Linked DNA regions of Homo sapiens: region 2 is linked to region 1. Evidence: fine-mapped expression QTL. A gene starts in region 1. The other region holds a variant in brackets. All regions are shown on one strand. Distances are from middle to middle.

The links.
Region 2: its variant is fine-mapped to the expression of TMEM86B in whole blood (TOPMed, PIP 0.91).

What each region holds. Positions count from the first base shown.
Region 1 is chr19:55,223,229-55,233,665 of GRCh38, reverse strand. TMEM86B (transmembrane protein 86B) reads left to right here and starts at 4,903. Exons shown (of 3, transcript NM_173804.5): 1 at 4,903-4,975; 2 at 5,229-5,475; 3 at 6,103-7,028. The coding sequence starts at 4,925. The coding sequence ends at 6,485. PPP6R1 (protein phosphatase 6 regulatory subunit 1) reads left to right here. Exons shown (of 24, transcript NM_014931.4): 18 at 1,455-1,591; 19 at 1,684-1,864; 20 at 1,998-2,068; 21 at 2,175-2,256; 22 at 2,782-2,892; 23 at 2,982-3,053; 24 at 3,135-3,887. The coding sequence ends at 3,138. It overlaps MIR6804 (microRNA 6804), which reads left to right and starts at 2,714; the gene lies at 2,714-2,781.
Region 2 is chr19:55,256,566-55,267,002 of GRCh38, reverse strand. PPP6R1 (protein phosphatase 6 regulatory subunit 1) reads left to right here and starts at 7,986. Exons shown (of 24, transcript NM_014931.4): 1 at 7,986-8,568. It overlaps HSPBP1 (HSPA (Hsp70) binding protein 1), which reads left to right. Exons shown (of 8, transcript NM_012267.5): 5 at 717-872; 6 at 1,021-1,117; 7 at 1,614-1,725; 8 at 4,321-4,780. The coding sequence ends at 4,395. RefSeq lists enhancers at 7,349-7,398, 7,479-7,528, 7,559-7,758, 7,764-8,738 and silencers at 7,588-7,882, 7,789-8,068, 8,199-8,298, 8,469-8,528, 9,713-9,906. The variant G/C (reference allele first, on the strand shown) is at 5,918.

The DNA.
Region 1 (10,437 bases):
ATTGTTTTCAGATTGTTACAAGTATATGAAAATACAATAGGTTTTTGTATGTTGATCTTTCATCCTGCAACCTTGCTGAACTAATGTATGAGTTCTGATAGTTTTAGTGGACTCCTTAGGATTTTCTATGTACAGAATCATGTCATGTGAATAGAGTTCATTTTCCTTCCTTTCAAATCTGGATGATTTTAATTTCCTTTTCTTGCCTGGTTGCCCTGGCTAGCCTCCGGGACAATGTTGAACAGAAGTGGCAAGAACAGGCATCCTTGTTTTGTTCCTGATCTTAGGGGGAAGCATTCAGCGTTTTGCCATGTAAGCATGCTGTTAGTTGTGGGGTTTTGTAGATGCCTTATGTTAGGTTGAGGGGCTTCCTTTATACTCCTTAGTCGTTGAGTATTTTAGTTTACTTTTAACTATATACAGATATATTACTTTCCAGTTAAAGTAGTCAGTTACTCTGTTAAGACAAAAATATTGGGTCAGCATTTTAGACATAGTATATAGTCCCATACTGCATCTTTGGGTCAGCGATGGACCACATATGACAGTGGTCCCGTGAGATTATAATCCTCTATTTTTGCTGTATTTTTCCTATGTTTAGATACACAAACATTTACCATTGTTAGAATTGCCTGTAGTATTCAGTACTGTAACATGCTGTATAGGTCGGTAGTCTAGGAACAATAGGCTATACCACAGAGCCTAGGTGTACAGGAGGCGCCACCATCCAGGTGTGTGTAAGTGCACTCTAGAATGTTCACACAATAGCAAAATCGCCTAATGATGGCGTTTTTCAGAGTGCACCCTCGTTGTTAAAGCTTAGTTTTAGTGTTACTTTGCTTACCCCTTCCCCGGTTGATCAGCACGTAGGTTGCTTGGATTTTCTTCATGCTCACAGGTGTGTGTTAGTCAACATTCAGCCAGTGTTTTTGGAGCAGCTATGGGTGCCTGGTGGTTTCTCAGGGCTGAGGATACAGCAGTGGCAAAACTCAGCCATCTCTGCCTTCTTGGAGTTTCTAGTTGGAGGGAGAGAGTAGTGTGAAGCCTCTGTCCAGAGGGTGGGCCTGCTGGTGGGAAGGCCTGTCACTGTGGTGACCGTGTGAGGTGACGGCTGGGAGGTGGCTTGAGAGCTGGTGAGTGGGTCTGTCTGCTCTGGTTGCCATGGCTGAGGCTCAGCCCACTTCCCCAGGGCCTGCCCTCCACGGATGACTGGCGACGGACGGTCTCCTTACGGCCGCATTCTGTCCCTGCCCGCCTGTGTTCTTGCCGTTGGCTCAGAACTCCCTCTCCCAGCCTCTCCTGGTGTCGTCACACCCCAGGCTCCCTGGACCCTTCTGTGACCTGCCTGTCATCCCAGCCCGCTCTCCTTGGGCTGACCCTGGGCTGCAGGGAACAGGATGGGTGTCGGCCGGTCTGTCCCACACAGCTAGCTGACGAGGTGGTTTCTGGGGCAGGAGTGGAGGCAGCACAGACAGTGAGGACGAAGAAGAGGAGGACGAGGAGGAGGAGGAAGACGAGGAGGGCATTGGCTGTGCAGCCCGTGGAGGGGCCACCCCTCTGTCCTACCCCAGCCCTGGCCCTCAGCCTCCAGGTGAATGAATGGGCGGTGTGGTCAGGTGTACACAGGGCTGTCTGCCTGCTACTGAGTTCACCCTCCATCCCGCTCCCCCACCTCTATCCCAGGCCCCAGCTGGACAGCCACCTTTGACCCAGTGCCTACAGATGCCCCGACCAGCCCCCGAGTCTCCGGGGAGGAAGAGCTGCACACTGGGCCTCCAGCCCCACAGGGGCCCCTCAGTGTGCCCCAGGGCCTCCCCACTCAGAGCCTGGCCAGCCCTCCTGCCCGTGACGCCCTGCAGCTCAGGTGAGAACCGGATGGAACGGGCTAAATGGTGCTGGTATCCCGAGGCCAGGAGGTGGCCATGGGGTCCCCGTCCTCTCATAGGCTCGAGTGCTAACCCTAGCTGCCCCCTTGGGCTGCCTCTCTCGCCTACCAGGTCTCAGGACCCCACACCCCCCTCAGCACCTCAGGAAGCCACAGAAGGCAGCAAAGTCACGGAGCCCTCAGGTGAGCCCCGCTTTGCCCTGCCCACCCGCGGCCCTGGGCAGAGAGAGCAGCCTGGCCAGCTCCGAGCTTGCTGGGAGCTGCAGCTGAGATCTCTTATCCCCCACAGCCCCTTGCCAGGCCTTGGTTAGCATCGGGGACCTTCAGGCCACCTTCCACGGGATCCGTTCTGCCCCCAGCTCCTCGGACAGGTGAGCAGCGAGGTGGGGCTGCCTAGTATCGGGAGAAGTCTTTTCTCCTCTTCGCTGAGGTGGGCTCTGGGTTCATCTTGTCCCTGAGCTGCTCCAGGCCTCCTTTGCAGGACCCCCAGGCGCAGCCTCATGTTGTGCCCCAGCCCCTTGCACTCTGTAGGCTGGTTCTTCTCTTAGTAGCCTGGGATGCTTGGGGCCCTTGAGCCCCAGGGTTGGGAAGGGCTCGTTGGAGGGTGTGAAGGATTGGGAGGGTGAGAGCATGCAGAAGACCCTTTGGGGCTGTCTCAGCCGGCCTCGAGTACCTCCTCCACAGGGACAGGAGGCGGGAAGAGGGGTGCTTGTCTTCCTGTCCAGGGCTGTGCTGTCCCTCCACGCTGAGCCAGCTGCGTCCTCGGGAGGCCCCTCCCCGTGGGGCAGGTGGCAGACACACACCCAGTGAGCCGACTTCAGTCGGGTGGGATGTGAGGGTGTCAGCAGGTGACGGTGGGGGCCACGCTGACAGCCGCACCTGCCTCTCACCCACAGTGCAACCAGAGACCCCTCTACCTCTGTCCCAGCCTCCGGGGCCCACCAGCCCCCCCAGACCACAGAAGGGGAGAAGAGCCCAGAGCCCTTGGGGCTTCCCCAAAGCCAGAGGTGAGCACCAGGGCAGCAGGGCGGGGGGGTGGGGGTGGGGCTGGTGGGGCAGGAAGTGACCTCTGCACATCCCCTCTCTCCCCTGACAGTGCCCAGGCCCTCACGCCTCCTCCGATACCCAATGGCTCTGCCCCGGAAGGGCCTGCATCCCCAGGCTCCCAGTGAGTGTGGCTGCAGCCTCGGGCTGGGTAGGTGGGGCTGGGCCTGCTAGACCCTCACACGACATCTCCCTCTGTTTCCAGATAGCTGCCTGGTGCGGCAGCGGCGGCCAAATCTTCCGTCCTCCCGTGGATCTCCCGGGGTGGGGGCAGGGCGGGTCCCACGATGGCCCCCATTGCCCTCATCACCCTGACACCCCCACATTCTCTCCTCTGGACCCCCAGGAGGCTGGTGCCAGGGAGACAGGCCCAACCCACCCCCATTTGCACTGAGAAGAGAAGTTTTGGAGCGTTGCCTCCTAGAATAAAGATACAGAGAGTCAAATAGAGAGAATGGAGAGAGAGAAACATATATTATATATTATATAGAGAGAGGGAGGAGAGCGAGAGAGAGTGAGGACACCGAACTGGGCTGGCGGCTCCAAAGCACAGCCTTCCCTGTTCCGTCCCAGCGGGAGCTGGTGTTAGGGGTCCCAAGGTTGCCACCCACGTGCCCAGCTGTCCCACGCTGCAGCGCAGACGGCCACGCCCACACCCGGCCTTTTAGCTCAGGTCCACCATGGGGGACGGCCCAGCGTGGGTGGGGGTGCCAGAGGGTCCCGAGTGGGGGCCGTGCCTTTGCCCAGACCCTGCACTTTCAACCAGGCCAGTCCGGCTCTGGGGAGCAGGGGCCTCCCCGGCAACAGCCCCAGGGGCCTTGAGGGTCTGAGGTCCCAGCCCTGTTGCCAAGTGACCTTGTCCCCAGCTCCCTCCTCCCAGGCTGGTGTGAGTGTGCGTGCGTTTGTGCCGAGCTTCTATTTCATATTGCAAATATAAATAAAGGAAGGCAGTTTACGATTCTGCTGGTCAGACCTTACGTTCTGGGATGCGGGGTGGGGAGCCTGTATTATCCCTGCACCCCAGAGGCTGGGGGTGCTCCTGACCCAGTCTGCCCCCACACTGTCCTGCCAGAGGGAGCCCTGTGGCTGCAGAGGCCCCAGGCTGGGCCAGGCACTGGCTGTGAGGGCTCCTGCCAGGTCTACCCCACCTGTGGGCAGGGCCTTGGGCAGAGGATAGAAGCCACCGACAGGCTCAAATCCCTGCTCCTGCCCCTGCTTACCCCCAGTAACCAAGCCCAGCATTGAGGCTGGGTACTGGCGCCCAGTAGGTCTGAGTCTTTCAGGTAGAAGGTAGAAGTGTAGGCTGCGTGTGCAGCGAGTGGCACCGGTGAGCGGCGCTGGGAAACCGGAGCGTGTGGACCGGGCCATGAGGACAGCGTCCTCACTGGGGTGGCAGTTGGCTTGGAGGTCACCTGGGGGCTCGCTCAGCTAACAGGAGAGGGTGCTTGTTCCCCGCATTCGTGGTGGTCCCTCCTGGTCACCCATTGAAGCAGTGTTTGTGGTGGAGCCCCTGAGGGCTTGGTGGGGTTGAGCAGAATGAGGAAAGGTTTCATGGAGCAGGGAGGGAGACGGCTAGGGCAGCAAGTGAAGGACAGACTCGCCTTCCCATCCCTCCAGGGGCACTCCTGCCAGCCAGCCCCTCTCCCGCTTCCCATGATGGGGTGGCTGTTGGAATTCTGCACCCCATCTCTTCTGATTGTTGGGGCCCAGGACAAGGGGACAGGCATTTGTGGGCCTAACCTCCCCAGGCAGATAGGAGGAGGAAGCCATGTCCCAGCAGGCTAGGGCAGAGGGACCCCCAGTGCCAACAGTGCTTTATCAGCGGGCGCCAGGCAGGGCCATCCCCAGGGTGAGGACAACATCTCCCTGGGCCCTGTTATCAGTCACAGAGTCCACAGGACGCTCCTTGGGTTAACGTGTAACCATGAGCCCTCCCCTCCACCCCCTGAAGCCACTCGCTCCCAGATTAGGTCGCTCTGGGGCTATCAGGCCAGCATGGACGCTGGCAAAGCGGGGCAGACCCTGAAGACTCACTGCTCAGCCCAGGTGAGAGCCTTCTGAGCTGTGCCTGGGGCTGGGGGGACAGGGCCCTGGAACCCCAGCAGCCGGCGGGTCTGGGAGCTGCTGTCCTTGAGTTGGTTGGGCCCTGGGAAGCTGGGTTCTGGCAGCCTGGTCCCTGAATGGGTCCAGCCTGTACAGCTGGGGTCCCAGGTGGGGGTGGGACAGGAGCCATGAGATCTGAGTCCCAAGAATGGGGGCTGGGCTGGGTTTCGGCTCAGTAGCTCCCCACTCCCCAAAGCGCCCAGATGTCTGCAGGTGGCTGAGCCCCTTCATCCTCTCCTGCTGCGTGTACTTCTGCCTCTGGATTCCCGAGGACCAGCTGTCCTGGTTCGCTGCCCTGGTCAAGTGCCTGCCCGTCCTCTGCCTGGCTGGGTTCCTGTGGGTCATGTCCCCAAGCGGGGGCTACACCCAGCTCCTCCAGGGAGCCCTTGTGTGCTCGGCTGTGGGGGACGCTTGCCTCATCTGGCCGGCAGCCTTCGTCCCTGGTGAGTGGAAGGTGCTGTGACGCTTTCCAGATGCCCGTGTGAGAGAGGCCCCAGCACTTGGATGGGAGCCTGGGTGCAGAGGGCTCCTGTGAGAGCTCCAGTGGTCAAAGGCACAGTGGGGGGCGCAGCCGTGACCGAGGCAGCTCACGCTCCAGCGAGGGGTGGGGGCAGGCGGTGTTAGGGCAGTAGCTGAGGTGGCGCAGAGGGCAGTGAGGACCTGCTGGAGGTACTGCAGTTTGAAGCAGGGTTGCTGAGGAAGGCCTCACTGAGGAAGTCACATTTGGGCAGAGCTGAAGGGCTGTATGCCTGTGTGGAGGAAGGGCGAGTGTAAAGGCTCCGGGGCAGGGACGTGTCAGGTGCTTGTAGCCCAGCAGGCCAGGGTGGCTGGCGCAGAGTGGCTGGAGAGCTGGAGGCCATGGGGCTTTGGAGGCCAAGGGAAGGTGGGGCCTCCTGGCAGTTCTGAGCAGAGCAAGGATGGACACTGCATGTGGGGAGACCTGCAAGGAGGCTCGGCCAGGGTGGGGCCTGGTGCTCTGGGATGGTCCTTCTCTTAGGCCCTGAGGGGTGACCTCGGGGCCATTCCCAGGATGGGCCTTCCTCACTGGTACCCCACCCCTCTCCCGCCAGGCATGGCCGCCTTTGCCACCGCCCACCTCCTCTACGTCTGGGCCTTCGGCTTCTCTCCCCTGCAGCCCGGCCTGCTGCTGCTCATCATCCTGGCCCCTGGCCCCTACCTCAGCCTTGTGCTCCAGCACCTCGAGCCGGATATGGTCCTGCCGGTGGCAGCCTATGGGCTGATCCTGATGGCCATGCTGTGGCGCGGCCTGGCCCAGGGCGGGAGTGCCGGCTGGGGCGCGCTGCTCTTCACGCTCTCTGATGGCGTGCTGGCCTGGGACACCTTCGCCCAGCCCCTGCCCCATGCCCACCTGGTGATCATGACCACCTACTATGCTGCCCAGCTCCTCATCACACTGTCAGCCCTCAGGAGCCCGGTGCCCAAGACTGACTGACTAGGGAGCTTGAAGGGCCGGTGTTCAGGCCCTCTCCTCCTGCAAGGACCTGGGCCTCCCAGCCCAGCCCAGCCTGAGAAATACCCTCAGCAGCGAAGCTTCCTGACGCCTGTCTGCAGGCGCCGCTGCCGCCGTCGCTTCTGGCTGAAGACGTTTGAGGACGATTTGCGGAATTCCAAGTCCACTACTGGGTTCCAGCTGCCTTCCCCCGGTTCTGACTCCAGATCCCTGGCTCCTCAGCCAGGCCCACATGGAGCCCTCCCAGCCACCAGCCTGCCTCCATGTTCACTGTCGGCCCCACAGCCTGCCCGCCCCCTGCTGCTGCTCTGAATCCGTTTTCCCTGTGGGTGTGGAACCGTAGATGTTGCTGTTACCGTAGGAGAGGCCTCGGGGAGGGTCATGATTGTGATAAACCATCGCGGTTAATGACAGCAGAAGGTTCTTTGTCGCTCCCCATGGACCAGGCCTGGTGCCCAGTGGGACCCTCCATGGCCCTCTGGTGGGGGGATTCGGGGGGATAAAGTGAGGATTGTGCAGAACTGAGCCAAGAGGACTGTTTGGTCTTTGTGTTAGTTTCCTGAGGCTGCTGTCACAAATTACCCCAAGCCAGATGCTTTGAAACAAGATGAATGGACTCTCCTGCAGTTCTGGAGACCCAAAGTCCAAAATCCGGGTGTTTTCCGGCCCATGGTCCCTCTTGAGGCTCCAGGGAAGAATCCGTCCTTGCCCTCTCGGCTTCTGGAGGCTCCCGGGAATCCCTGGCTTCCATCGGCCTGTGGCTGTGTCTCTCCGTCTTCATGTGACTGTCTTCAACTGGCAGCCTCCCTCTGTGTCCGCATCCTTCTAGGGACACAGGTCATTGGATTTAGGGCCCACCCTAAACCCAGGGTGATTCTATCTCAAGATCCTTAAGTATGTCTGCAAAGCCCCTATTTCCAAGTAGTGTCACCTGCAGAGGTATCTGGGGTTAGGACTTGGACATATCTTTCTAGGGGATACAACCCGCTGCAGTCACATGCAGTATCGGGAGAAGGGTGGGAGGCTTGAGGATGAGGGGTCTTGGAGGAGGGAGGGCGGCAAGGGGGTAGGAATCAAATGGGAAGGAGGAACCCAGCTGTGCTCCTTGTCAAGGCTGTGTGACCTCGGCAAGCTGCTATCCCTCAGGTCCTCAGATTCTGCATCTGAAGACTTGACAGGGTCCAAGCTGCTCTCCAAGACCCTATTTGACTTCTGCATCCATGATGTGCTTTCAGTGACTCATAGCAGAGGGGCGACTTCTCCATCCATGGTTAGCATTTAGAGACTCTTACAGCAGAGAGGCGACCTCTCTATCCATGACCTGCATTTAGGGACTCTTAGAGCAGAGGTGACTTCTCCATCCATGACCTGCATTTAGGGACTCTTACGACAGAGAGGGGACTTCTCCATCCATGGCCAGCATTTAGGGACTCTTACAGCAGAGAGGTGACTTCTCCATCCATGACCTGCATTTAGGGACTCAGATGTGAGAGTACAGAGGTGGGAAGGGAAGGTGGGGAGCCTGGAGGACGGGGACCAGGAAGGAAAGTGAGGACAGGAATCCACAGTTGGAGTGAGGAGAAGTGGAAGCTGAGGGATTTCCTTGAGGAAGGGTCAGGCATGAGGAGGATCTGAAGGATTGGACTCAGGTTCGAAACCTCCACTTCCTCCTCATCTCCTACCCTCTCCACTCAGACCTGGCGAAAGGTGGGGAAAGAGGAAATTGCGCAGTGAAGTGTAGCAGGAGGGACGGGGGTCTGGGTGTGCAGATTCCAGGGGCACGTGGGGCCTGCAGACATGAGGGGTTCCTGGAGGTGAGGGAGGAGGGGCTGGAACCTGGACTCCTGGGTCTGAGGGAGGAGGGGCTGGGGCCCTGGACTTCTGAGTCTGAGGGAGGAGGGACTGGGGCCTGGACCCCTGAGTCTGAGGGAGGAGCTGGGGGCCTGGACTCCTGAGTCTGAGGGAGGAGGGGCTGGGCCTGGACTCCTGAGTCTGAGGGAGGAGGGGCTGGGCCTGGACTCCTGAGTCTGAGGGAGGAGGGGCTGGGGGTCTGGACTCCTGGGTCTGAGGGAGGAGGGGCTGGGGGTCTGGACTCCTGAGTCTGAGGGAGGAGGGGCTGGGGACCTGGACTTCTGGGTCTGGGGGAGGAGGGGCTGGGGGCCTGGGTCTGAGGGAGGAGGGGCTGGGGGCCTGGACTCCTGCGTCTGAGGGAGGAGGGGCTGGGGTCTGGACTCCTGAGTCTGAGGGAGGAGGGCCTGGGGGCCCGAACTCCTGGGTCTGGGAGAGGAGGGGCTGGACTCCTGAGTCTGTGGGAGGAGGGGCTGGGGGCCTGGACTCTTGAGTCTGAGGGAGGAGGGGCTGGGCCCATAATCCCTGGTGTTTGGGGAACATTCTGGCTTTTGGTCCCTGGGCTCTGTGGGGTCGGCAGTCCAGAGCGACGGGACGCTGCTCTCCTGTCGGCATCCAGCAGCCCCAGCGTCGTGTCCCTCCTCCCTGATTCTGGTCCCCCGACGACCTTTCATCTGACTTCTCAGAGGTCTGCTTTCTCATGATCTGATTCGTGTTTCTCTAAAGCGGGACTCTCGGAGGTGCTGCGCACATCCCTCTCAGGCTCCTTCCAGCCCTGCCGGGACCCAGACCTGGGGCAAGGGGCAAAACGCCGGCTCCATCTTCCCTCCCAAGCCGGGGTGGCTGGTGGGGATGAGGCGGGGTGGGACTCAGCAGCCTTCATCCCGATCCTGCAGGTCAGACCACCGTGGGTCTGATTCCCCATCTGGGCCCTCCCCAGGCCCTCGGGACCACGACAGAGGCCACAGCAGCAGGTTAGTGACCCCATCAGCCTCCATCCTGCACGTCTAGGAAGGGCCGTGGGATTCCGTCTTCTGTTTGCCGCAGAGGCTTCTACCCATGTCAGCCGCCAAAGCAGACAGAATCGTGAGTGTGGAGGCTCGGACCTCCAGCTCCATCACCCTGAGCTGGGCAGCCCCAAGGGCCCAGACCGGCAGACTTCCATCTACTGGGTCCAGGGGCATGGCCAGCGGGAACACAAGCACGTCACACTGCTGGCTCGTGGTGGAGGGCTTCAGCCTGGGACCCTCTACACCACCTCTGTGTGGGCCAAGAAGAAAGGAGTAGGTGGCCCCAGGGACGTCCTGAGCATGTCTACAGGTAAGAGGGGCCACCTTTCCACTGCCCAGCAACATGTGCGTGTGTGTGCACGTGCACTTGTGTGTGCATGTGTGTTTGCGTGTGTGTGCGCGTGCGTGCGTGTGCACATTTGTAAAAAGTGCCAGGCTGTGCACTTTATTCTCATTAGAGCCACAAACAAACTTTATCAAATGACTCTCTCCTTTCCACATTCCCAAACTAGTCCCTGGCCTGGTCACACCGGCTCAGACCACCAGCTCCCTCACCCTGAGGGCCCCGCAGGCCCAGACTCCAAGACCTGCCCCTACTGGCTCTGCTGGGCCAGTGACTCCTCAGACATCAGGGTGCCTGTGGAGGGCCTGGCTGCAGGGACGCAGTACCCCAGCATGTGGGCCCAGAAGCATGAGGTCAACAGCCCCAGCCAGACGCTCACAGAGGCCACGGGCGAGGGGTGAGAGCACTCTGGGCTTGGGGAGTAGGAGGCCTCAGGAGGCCTCTGGCATCGGCCCCACTGATAGGGTGCATCCTTCCAGAGCAAGCAGGGCTGTGGGAAGGAGGGGATGCTTCCCTTTGCTCTGGAGGCCCAGGGACTATGGGGTGTGGTCTGTGAAGCAGGTTCACTGTGCACTGGTTACCAACTTGCCAGAGTGATGAGACAGAACGCCACACGCAAAAAGTTACATGAAGTGGGCTTGTTTCTCACAGATGGGCAGCAAGGGACAGCAGAATCCCAGGGTCCGTTGTAAGCTGGTCCCCCAAGGCTTAGGAAAGTGGCCTAGGGAGGATA
Region 2 (10,437 bases), 33 kb before region 1:
AAACATCATGCTGAGTGAAAGCAGTCAGACACAAAAGGTCACGTATTTTATGGACACATTTATATTAAATGTCTGGGACAGGTAAATCCATAAAGGAAGAAAGTATATCTGTGGTTGCAGGGGCCAGAGGGAAGGGAAATTGGGAATGACTGCTCATAGGTTTCCTTTGGGGGGTGATGAAAATTTCCTAGAGTTAGTGGTGATGGTTATACAACCCTGTGAATATCTTTAAAAGGCTGAACTGTGTGGATTGTGAATTATATCTCAAAAGCATACTTCAAAAAAAGATAATGCTTGCATATGCAGGCCCATGGCAAGGGATGATAGTGGTTGGTGGTGATGATGGTGACGATGATTGACGATAATTATATTGTTAATGGTAGTGATGATGATGGCGGTGATGGTGATGTGGTGGTGATGGTGATAGTGATGGTGATAGTGATGGTGATGTTGGTGATGTCATGGTGATGATGGTGGTGGTGATGGTGGTGGTGGTGATGGTGATAGTGATGGTGGTGGTGGTGAGGATGGTGGTGATGGTGATGGTGGTGAGGATGAGAATGGTGATGATGATGATTGTGATGGTGGTGAAGATAGTGGTGATGGTGGTGATGATGATGTTGGTGATGGTGGTTGTGATGATGTTGGTGATGGTGCTTGTGATGACAGTGGTGGTGGTGGTGACTGCAAGCTCAGGACCTTTCCCCCTCTCCCAGGTCTGGTCCGAGAGCAGGAGGCTGGGCTGCTGCAGTTCCTCCGCCTGGACGGCTTCTCTGTGTTGATGAGGGCCATGCAGCAGCAGGTGCAGAAGCTCAAGGTCAAATCAGCATTCCTGCTGCAGAACCTGCTGGTGGGCCACCCTGAACACAAAGGTGTGGCAGCCCTTGAGTGAGGGCAGGAGTGGGGAGCAGACGCCCTGGGGTGGGTGCAGGTGTGGGAGAAGGGGAGGAACAGGCATCCCGGGGAGGGCATAGGAGATGGGTGGGGCTGCCCCTCTGACCCCTGCAGCCCTCCCCCCAGGGACCCTGTGCTCCATGGGGATGGTCCAGCAGCTGGTGGCCCTGGTGCGGACAGAGCACAGCCCCTTCCACGAGCACGTGCTTGGAGCCCTGTGCAGGTACTTTGGCTCCTTGAGAGGACGGGGCCTGGGGTGGGGGCCCCGTCCTCTCAAGGTGGGGGTGGCTCAGGAATCAGCCCGTAGGGACTCAGGAGTTGGGACCTTCCCGTAGAGAGGAAGGGTGTGGGGCCAGAAAGGAGCAGGAGTCAGGGAGCCTCAGTTTCCTCACCAGTAGGGCTGGCACAGAGGCCTTGCAGGAGGGAGAGAGGCTTCTGTACACGCCCCCACCAGTGGATTAGTGTCTAATCAGATGATGCTGGAGCTCTCAACAGCACACCAGAGTTGACACGCACCAGGCCCTGTGCTGAGCCCCTCAGCACCCACCCTGGGCCAGGGGCAGCGTGAGGTCCATTCCGCAGATGGGGAAATGGAGGCCCATTGTGGGGCAGCGACTTGCCAGGCTCCTGAGTGAGCCAGGGGACGGGGCGGGCGATAGGGTTGGGTCAGTGAGGCCTCTAGAGGGAGGTCCTAAGGGCCGCTGTCATGTCCCTCACAGCCTGGTGACAGACTTTCCGCAGGGTGTGCGCGAGTGTCGGGAGCCGGAACTGGGCCTGGAGGAGCTCCTCCGCCACCGCTGTCAGCTGCTGCAGCAGCATGAGGAGTACCAGGTACATGGGGAGGGGACGGGGTGCAAGGAGGACCAGGTGCAAGGGGGAGGGGACAAGGGCTCCAGGAGGACTAGGTGTGTGGGGAGGGGATGGGGTTCGAGGAGGATCAGGTGCCAGGGGGAGGGGACAGGGGCTCCAGGAGGACCAGGTACACGGGGAGGTGACGGGGTGCAAGGAGGACTAGGTGTGAGGGGCAGGGGATGGGGTTCGAGGAGGATCGTGTGCCGGGGGAGGGGACAGCGGCTCCAGAAGGACCAGGTGAGTTGGGGAAGGGACAGGGTGTGAGGAGGACCAGGTGTGAGGGGGAGGGGCCTGGGGGGTGAGGAATTCCCCAGGTTAGACCAAGTGTGGTAGTGGGGACCCTAGTAGGGGCAGAGCCAGCCAGTCCTTGCCCTTGGGGGCTCCTGGGTCCGCTGGTTCAGGCTTTCATTCGTGTTCTCGTGCATTTCACTTATCTTCCATTCAGCAGATGTTTATTTCATGCCTAGCATTCGTCCCGTGCTGTGTCAGAGTAGGAGAGACAGCAAGGAGACAGGAGCTTGGAGATTCTTAAAGTGTTGCCCAATCATTGAATTATTATCTAAATTACCCAATACAGTTGTTTTACATTAAGTAAATGTAAATTGAATATAATATCACTCAAATGTCTTAATGATTTAACTATTTCATTAAATTGACAAGAAATAACAAATGGCAAAAAATAACCAATTATTTTGGGTAAATAACAAGTGATAAATAACAAGTCATCAGATATTTAATTAGATAAGGGGCAAATAAATAACTCATTAGATAACTAGATAAGTAACAAATGCTAAATCACAACTAATTAAAATTCAAATAGTTAACTGATTAAGTAATGCATTAATTTGTTGAAGTGAATGAATCAATGCTGGTGCTTCAGCAAAGCCGAGCTTAGCAAACGCACCCACCTCCTTGGGACGTTATATTCTATTAGATTCATTCCTGTGTAGACACTGTCAAGTGTCTGTATGTATTGAAAGTGTACTACATGGCCAGGCATGGTGGCTCACGCCTGTAATCCCAGCACTTTGGGAGGCCGAGGCAGGCAAATCATGAGGTCAGGAGTTCGAGACCAGCCTGGCCAACATGGTAAAACCCCATCTCTACTAAAAATACAAAAAATTAGCTGGGCATAGTGGCAGGTGCTTGTAATCCCAGCTACCCAGGAGGCTGAGGCAGGAGAATCGCTTGAACCGGGGAGGCGGAGGTTGCAGTGAGCCAAGATGCGCCACTGCACTCCAGCCTGGGCGACAGAGTGAGACTCCATCTCAAAAAAAAAAAAAAAAAAAGTGTACTACATGAGAAGTTTTGACTTATGTATACACCCGTGGAAACATTCAAATTAGATTTGTAACAGATTTTACTAATGCTTTGTGAATAGGTTCCGTAGTCACATGGTTGAAAATACAAGACCCGCAGGAGGGTAAACAGTGAAAAGTCTCTCTCCTGCCCCTCCTTCTGGCTACCCAGTTGCTCAGGTGTCCTTCTTAAAATATTAGGTACACACGAGCAAAGGTGCATGTGAATTCTCCTTTTTCTCTATGTTATGCAAAATAAGCCTGCCGTGCTGTGATGGCTGTTCTGCCCCTTGCTTTGTGGGCATTGCATGTCTCGCCTGTGGCTCTTTCATTTTGCAGCTGTACAGTGCGGATGGGCTCTTTTTTGTAGCATGGATATGCAGGTTGTTTCTACACTCTCGCTATGACAAACACTGCTGAAAGAATAACCTTTTGTATATGTTATTACATATGTCTGTAGAACAATTTCTAGAAGGGAAATGGCTGGGGTCAGGTATGTTAAAGGTGAAGGTTAAAGGGTTAAGGGCCGTTTCATTAGCTATCACCAAGCTGCTCTCCATAGAAGTTCAACCATTGACACTCCAGTCATGAGGGTGCCCAACTCCCCAAATCTTGGTCAGGACAAAGTGGCCTCGATGAACCATTTGACCTTTTTTCAAACTGATTGTTGAAAAGTAGTACTCCAGTCCAGTTTACATTTCTCCCATGAGTGAAATTTGGCATCTTTTCTCTTTCTTGTGAACTGTTCGTTCTCATCCTTTGCCCACTTATCTATTTATTGGGTGATGGTTTTTGCGAATGACTTTTTTAAGCTCTTTAAGAGTTAAGTATATTAGCCATTTGTGCTATGAATCACAAATATTTTTCTCCAACCTCGTTTTCTTTTTCTTTTTTTGCCATGGGAGTATTTTTTATATTACGTAGTTTAACCTCTCAGTGCTTTCTTTCATGGTTTCTGGGGTTTGTATCCGCAGAAAGTTTTGAGCAGTGGTCCATATCTGGGAGTTAGAAAGAGCCCAAGAGTGCTGATATGAGGCAGACCAATGGAGTGAGACGAGTCTGGGGGACCCCGGGTTCTAGTTCAAGTAGTTCAGACACCAGTGTGAAGACAGTGAATCATGGATCTGAGCAGTGATTAAAAAAGCCTAACCTCTGGTGGGGGGGAGTGGGTGGTGGCCAGGAGAGAAGAGGAGTCACCTCTGGGTGCCAAGAATGCTGGAGGCAGGGTCCGGCCTCTGCACTCAGGCCCCTTGCTCCCTGCCCCTGCCCAATCCAGGAGGAGCTGGAGTTCTGTGAAAAGCTGCTACAGACCTGTTTCTCCAGCCCAGCGGACGACAGCATGGATCGGTGAAACCAGGTGGCTTCTTGCCCCCTTCTCCGTGGGAACCCCAGGCCTCTTGCCTCCCTCCCCACCTACAAGGCCCTCTCCCAAGGGATCGCAGGGCCTAGGTGCCTGGACCCAGGGTGTGCCAGCCCGTCTCTGTGCAGTCCCTGGAAGGGGCGCTGAGAAAGGCACCAGCTCCTTGGACCCCACCTCCCATGCTCTCACTCTCATCCCCGTTCTCTTGTCCACACAGCTCTTCCAATAAAGGTGTTTCTCTTCCTCCTTCTCCTCCTTCACTGCCGCCTTTGTCATCTCCTTTGGAGGGTGCATGGGGGACGGGAGGAGGGGCACGGGTTTAAGGGACTTGGGGAGCCACTGGAAGAATAATAAAAGTGTTGCTCTTTATCATCTATAGAGCCATTGTGTCATTTACTCTTCCCTGTCTTTCCTGAGCAACAGTGTGTGGGACATCTGTCCTTTTTTCGGCCACCTGGCAAACCTGAATTCTAGGTTTGAGGAATTTCCCAGGTTAGACATCTAAATTTTCCCTAGGGTAGCCGCCATTTCCCTTCCCAGCATCCTTTGCTGTAGGGTAATCATGTGACATTAGCTCCACAAATCAGAACTCTCTCTGGGAATCTGTTTTGTACACCAATCAGAACCCGCTGGTGGTCTAGCTCCTCTACCAATCAGAGCCCGCCGGTCGTCGGGCCAAGAGTTGGCGGTGGAGGGGCCCCTGCCCAGGTTCCCTTCTGGCTAGTGCAGGAGCAGCCACACCTGGCTTCTGGACAGGGCTGGCAGAGATTCTGGCGGGAGTGTCTGAGCCAGGTGCCGTTGATGGAGGCTGCACTGTGTCTCAGGAGCAGGCCTGTGGCTGGGTGTGGGCTTCATTCCTGACTGCAAAGCGCCAAGCGGATTCTGTAGCTTTCTCAGAGACGTGGGATTGGGGCGGGAGGTGGGGGTGTCGGAGGCTGCCTCAATTCCTTTAATAAATTCCTTTTCTGTTTAGCTACAAGAAATTTTGTCATTTGTAGACAAGAGCTTTGAAAGCTGTTGTTTTTCCAGAGAGGAGGCTGAGCTCAGAGGAGGCTGACCCCTGACCAAGTTCACAGCCAGGATTCACAGCTGGACTAATTCCAGAGCGATCCTCCTCTTTCTTTTTCTTTTTCTTTCTTTTTTTTTTCTTTTGAGACGGGAGTCTCACTCTGTTGCCCAGGCTGGAGTGCAGTGGCCCGATCTTGGCTCACTGCAGCCTCCACCCTCCGAGTTCAAGAGATTCTCCTGCCTCAGCCTCCCAAGTAGCTGGGATTACAGGCGCCTGCCACCGCGCCCGGCTAATTTTTGTATTTGTAGTAGAGACCAGGTTTCACCATCTTGGCCAGGCTGGTCTTGAACTCTTGACAGGGTGATCCACCCTCCTCGGCCTCCCAAAGTGCTGGGATTACAGGTGTGAGCCACTATGCCCGGCCAATCCTCCTCTTTCTTGTATCCTGGTTTCCTAGGACAATTTGATGTCAGACTCATTCCTTTTGTGTGGATTGTTCTGGTG[G/C]ATCTGGGATTTTTGAGTCTATTTGGATTGGTTTTTATCACTCCTCTTCCTAAATCCAGGATAAATTGAGAGGTAGCTGCAGGATCTGAGATCCTGTCTCAAGAAAAAAGTTCCAGTTGTAGTCCCAGCTACTCGGGAGGCTGAGGCGAGAGGATTGCTTGAGCCCAGGAGTTCGAGGCTGCAGTGATCTGTGATCGTGCCATGCACTCCAGCCTGGTCGACAGAGCCAGACCCTGTCTCTTAAAAAAAAGTTTCAATTCTAATGCAAACACAATGTATATCTGTGAGTTCTGCTGGGTGGAAATCCAGACTTCAGTCATTAAAGCCCCCACAGCTTCCCAGCTTCCATTTGAAGGGTAGGGACTATAGCCACATCCTTATCCCTCAGTTCCTGACCTCTGTGTTAAAACAGTGTGGCAATGATGCCATCATATTGTGGAGAAAACAAGGAAGCCAAATGCTGGGTAAAAGACAAAACATCTCTATAGAAAAAAGAGAAAAGGAAATGCCTCTCTGTGATGGTTCATTTCAGGTGTTGACTGGGCTAAGGGATGTCCAGATAGCTGGTAAAACATTATGGGTGTGTCTATGAGGGTATTTCTGGAAGAGACTAGCATTTGAATCGGTAGACTGAATAAAGATCTTCCCTCCCCAGTGTGAGCTGGCATTATCCAATCCATTGAGGGTCTCAATAGAACAAAGAGGGCAAAGGAGGGGTGAATTTGCTCTTTTTTTTTTTTTTTTTTTTTCTCGAGACGGAGTCTCGCTCTGTCACCCAGGCTGGAGTGCAGTGGCCTGATCTGGGCTCACTGCAACATCCACCTCCCGGGTTCAAGTAATTCTCCTGCCTCAGCCTCCTGAGTAGCTGGGATTACAGGCGCACACCGCCACGTCCGGCTATTTTTTGTATTTTAGTAGACACGTGGTTTCACTGTGTTGCCCAGGCTGGTCTCAAACTCCTGAGCTCAGGCAATCCGCCCACCTCGGCCTCCCAAAGTGCTGGGATTATAGGCGTGGGGTCTTGAACTCCTGAGCTCAAGTACAGGCAGGCGTGAGCCACCACGCTGGGCCCTTTGTTTTTGAGACAGGTTCTCGCTCTGTCTCCTAGGATGGAGTGCAGTGGTGCAATCCGGCTCACTGCAGCCTCGGCTCAAGCGATTCTCCTGCCTTAGCCTCCCGAATAGCTGAGACCACAGGCGCGGGCCACCAGGCCCAACTAATTTTTTAAATTTTCTTTTGTAGAGACGGGGGTCTCCCTAGGTTGCCCAGGCTGGTCTCCAACTCCTGGTCTCATGCCATCCTCCGGCCTCGGGCCTCCTAAAGTGTTGTGATTACAAGCGTAAGCCACCGCGCCCGGCCAATTCGGAGTCTTAAAACAAAAACAAAAACAAAAAAGTTCCTCGCGCCCACACGATTTTTACAGTAGGCCTCTAACATGGGTAGAGAGGGGAGCTATTAAAGTTGGGGAAACCGAGGCTCAAAGCCAGAGGGACCTTCATCAATCTAGACACAAGGTCTAGGAGGTCTCTTTCAGTTGATGCTATTAGAAGCTGCTTTGGGCGGAACTGGCAACACCAGCGACCCGGCCGGGACTATCGCCAGCAGACGGAAACGACTGAGGGCCTCTGAGGCTCGGAGGCGGCTAAGCGCGAGAGCCGGACGGAACGAAGGCGCCTGGCTTTGGCTGGAGCGAAAACCAGGTCTGGATTTCGCAAGAGCCCGACCCTGGAGCCAAAGCTCCACTATGATTAGAGGAGACAGAACAGCGAACGGATTTCCAAACGGAGCGAGTGGGAAGGGAAATCCTGGAGCGGAATATTCACGGGGCCTTGGAACGGAGCCGGTGCGCAGCTGCGGCTCACTGAGCTGTCTGGGTTTATTCCGGGGCAGACCGTTGGCACCAACGGGCGCAAGCGCGTCTGCGGCGGCGGGGTTCAAGAGTGGGCGGTGTCGGGAGCGCCCGGGCGCACGCGCACTGCACCGCCCAGGCGTGCACCCCGCCCCCCGCACCTGCGCACCAACACAGCCGCGGGAGGGCGGGGCCTCCTGCGTCGTCCTGCGCTAGGGGGATTGTGGGATAGTGGCGGAGGGAGCCGGGCGTCGGAGGCCCTGAGGCCGGCCGCAGAGCCCGGAGATTGAGCGGCTTTGGGGAAGGGGTGGTTAAGGAAGTAGGCCTCGGCTTCCGTCGGTCGCTGCTCGGCTCTGCGGCCCGTTTGGACCGCGGAGGAGGTCGCCTTCCCCTCCCGTGGGGCGCTCGGTTGGACTGTGGAAACCGGGGCAACTTCCCCCGTCTTCCCGGCTGAGGCGCCTGCGTGGGCCTCGCGACCCGGCTCGCCAACCCGCCTCGGCCCGCACGCCCACCTCGCCTGCGGACCCCGGAGGTGCCTACGCGGACTAGTGACGCCCCCCGCCCGTCGGCAACTCCACCCGGCGCTGACCCCCTCAACTCTGCAGGACCCGGCGCGCGAGGACCCCACGACCCGCGGGCGCCTGCGCGGACCCCGCGAGCCCCGGCGCCTGCGCGAGTCCCCGACGCCGCCCCCGCCCCCACTCACCGGGCCCCGCAGCAGGGGCCGGAGCCGCCGGCGGCGGGGCGGGGGGGGGCGCCCCGATGAGCCCCGAGTGCGAGGAGCCGCCGCCCCCCCTCGCAGGTGAGCGGCCCGCGTCGCCCGACCCTCTCTCTCCAGGGCCAGGCGCCCACGTCTTCCCCTCTCCGCGTCCCCTCAGGCTTTTCCCTCTCGGGACCCCCGCGGGTCTTTTCTGCTTCGGATCCTTTCCCTCCTTCCTTCGGGTTTCCTCTCCACGGCACCCCGTTTCTTCCCCCTCGACCCTCCCCAGTCTCTTAATCTCTTCACCTCAGCTCCGCCGCCACCCTAGTCTCAGTCTCTTGCTCTCGGCCTTTTCCCACTCGCTCTCTGCAGCTGCGCTCCCCAGTCCCTGAGCCTCAGCTCCGCTCTCTTGCCTCTCTGGCCGGTTCCCCGGCCCCCCAGGAGTCTTTCTCCCTGGTTACCCTGGACTTTGCCTGCTTACACCCTTCCCTCTCGCCCCGATCTCTGCCCCGCCACCTCTTCCGTGGCGCAGCCTCCTTAGATCCCCGGAGCTCAGGACTGGAGGAGCGGGGCTTGTTTTCACCTTGACCGACCCTCTCCCGCCTCCGGCTTCTTGTGCGAGGGACCTGGGAGCGGGGCTTCTCTGGAGCAGCCACCACTCGGGCCTGCTTCAGTGAGATGAAGCCTGCTGAGGGCAGGCAGGGAGCCTGGCGCTGGGCACCGAGGAGGGGGCATCAGCCCTAGGCCCTGCCCTGGAGGTGGGGCCGGTCCCTGGAGGGGGTACAAAGGCAGAGCCGGACAGTCACAATTCCTGCGTGTCGTGATCGAGGTGACTTAGGGAGCTGCAGGGGGCCACAGAGCGGGAGGCACTGGTGAGACTGACTGGACGGACGGCTTTTTCTGTCTAGGAAGGATGAGTAGGAGGTGACAGATGGAGAGTGGGAAGAAGGGCCTTCCGGGGGGGGAAGGAGCAGCACGTGCAGATATGTCAAGGAAGGAAGGTCGGAGTCCTGAGTGCAGATGTATTGGGAGGGTGAGGGGCAGAGTAGTTCCGCCCGGCGTGCTTATCCAGGCCTCGAATGGGACCTCTGGTTGGGGTCTTTCTTGCTCGCTCGTAGTACACACAGACATGACCATAGACACCCGCCTGAAAGGCAAGATGTTTCAGGAAAGGAAGCTGCGTAGACTGTCAGGTGCGGTACTGGGTTCACAGTTGTAGAGAAACTGCAGTGGGATTTCATCCAGCCCAAGGGCGAGGGTCTAACTGTTAGCGTGCGCTGCAAATGCAGCAAGGACTCGAGATTGCCTGGATAACACAGGATGAGGACTTGGTTTACATACATGCACAACACACATGGAGACACGGCGCCCGGCCACGTGTGCTTACTAGTGGTGGGATGGCTGTTGGAGCTGCTTGTGCTGTTGAAAATGTTATGCTTTTTTTTTTTTTTTTTTTTTAACTCTAGTTCTGGGATTGGGATCATGAGAAGGCAGTCCAGCTAATTGTTAGAGGATCTTTTGCCAGACAGACCTAGGCCGAGTCCGGCTTCTGCCAAGCGAGACCTTGGACAAGTTGTTCCTCGTCTGTAAGTGGGGATAGCAGACTGCTCTCCTCAGAGGGTGGATCTAGGGATTAAGTGCAGGGTTTGTAGAAGCCTGTGGCAGAATGCAAGGCACATGACACTCTGCAATCAGTAGCTGTTTTGATGTTGATGATTTTGAGACTGGGTTTTGCTCGTTTGCCCAGCCTTGAACTCCTGGACTCAAGTGATTTTCCCACCTTAGCCTCCTAAGTAGCTAGGACTACAGGCACGTCCTGCAATGCTTGCTCAATTTTTGTGTTTTTGTACCACGCTTGGCTAATGTTTGTATTTTTTGTAAAGACTGGGTCTTGCTCTGGTGCCCTGCTGTGGTGCCCAGGCTGATTTCAAACTCGTGGGTTCAAGCAGTCCTCCTACCTAGCCTCCCAGA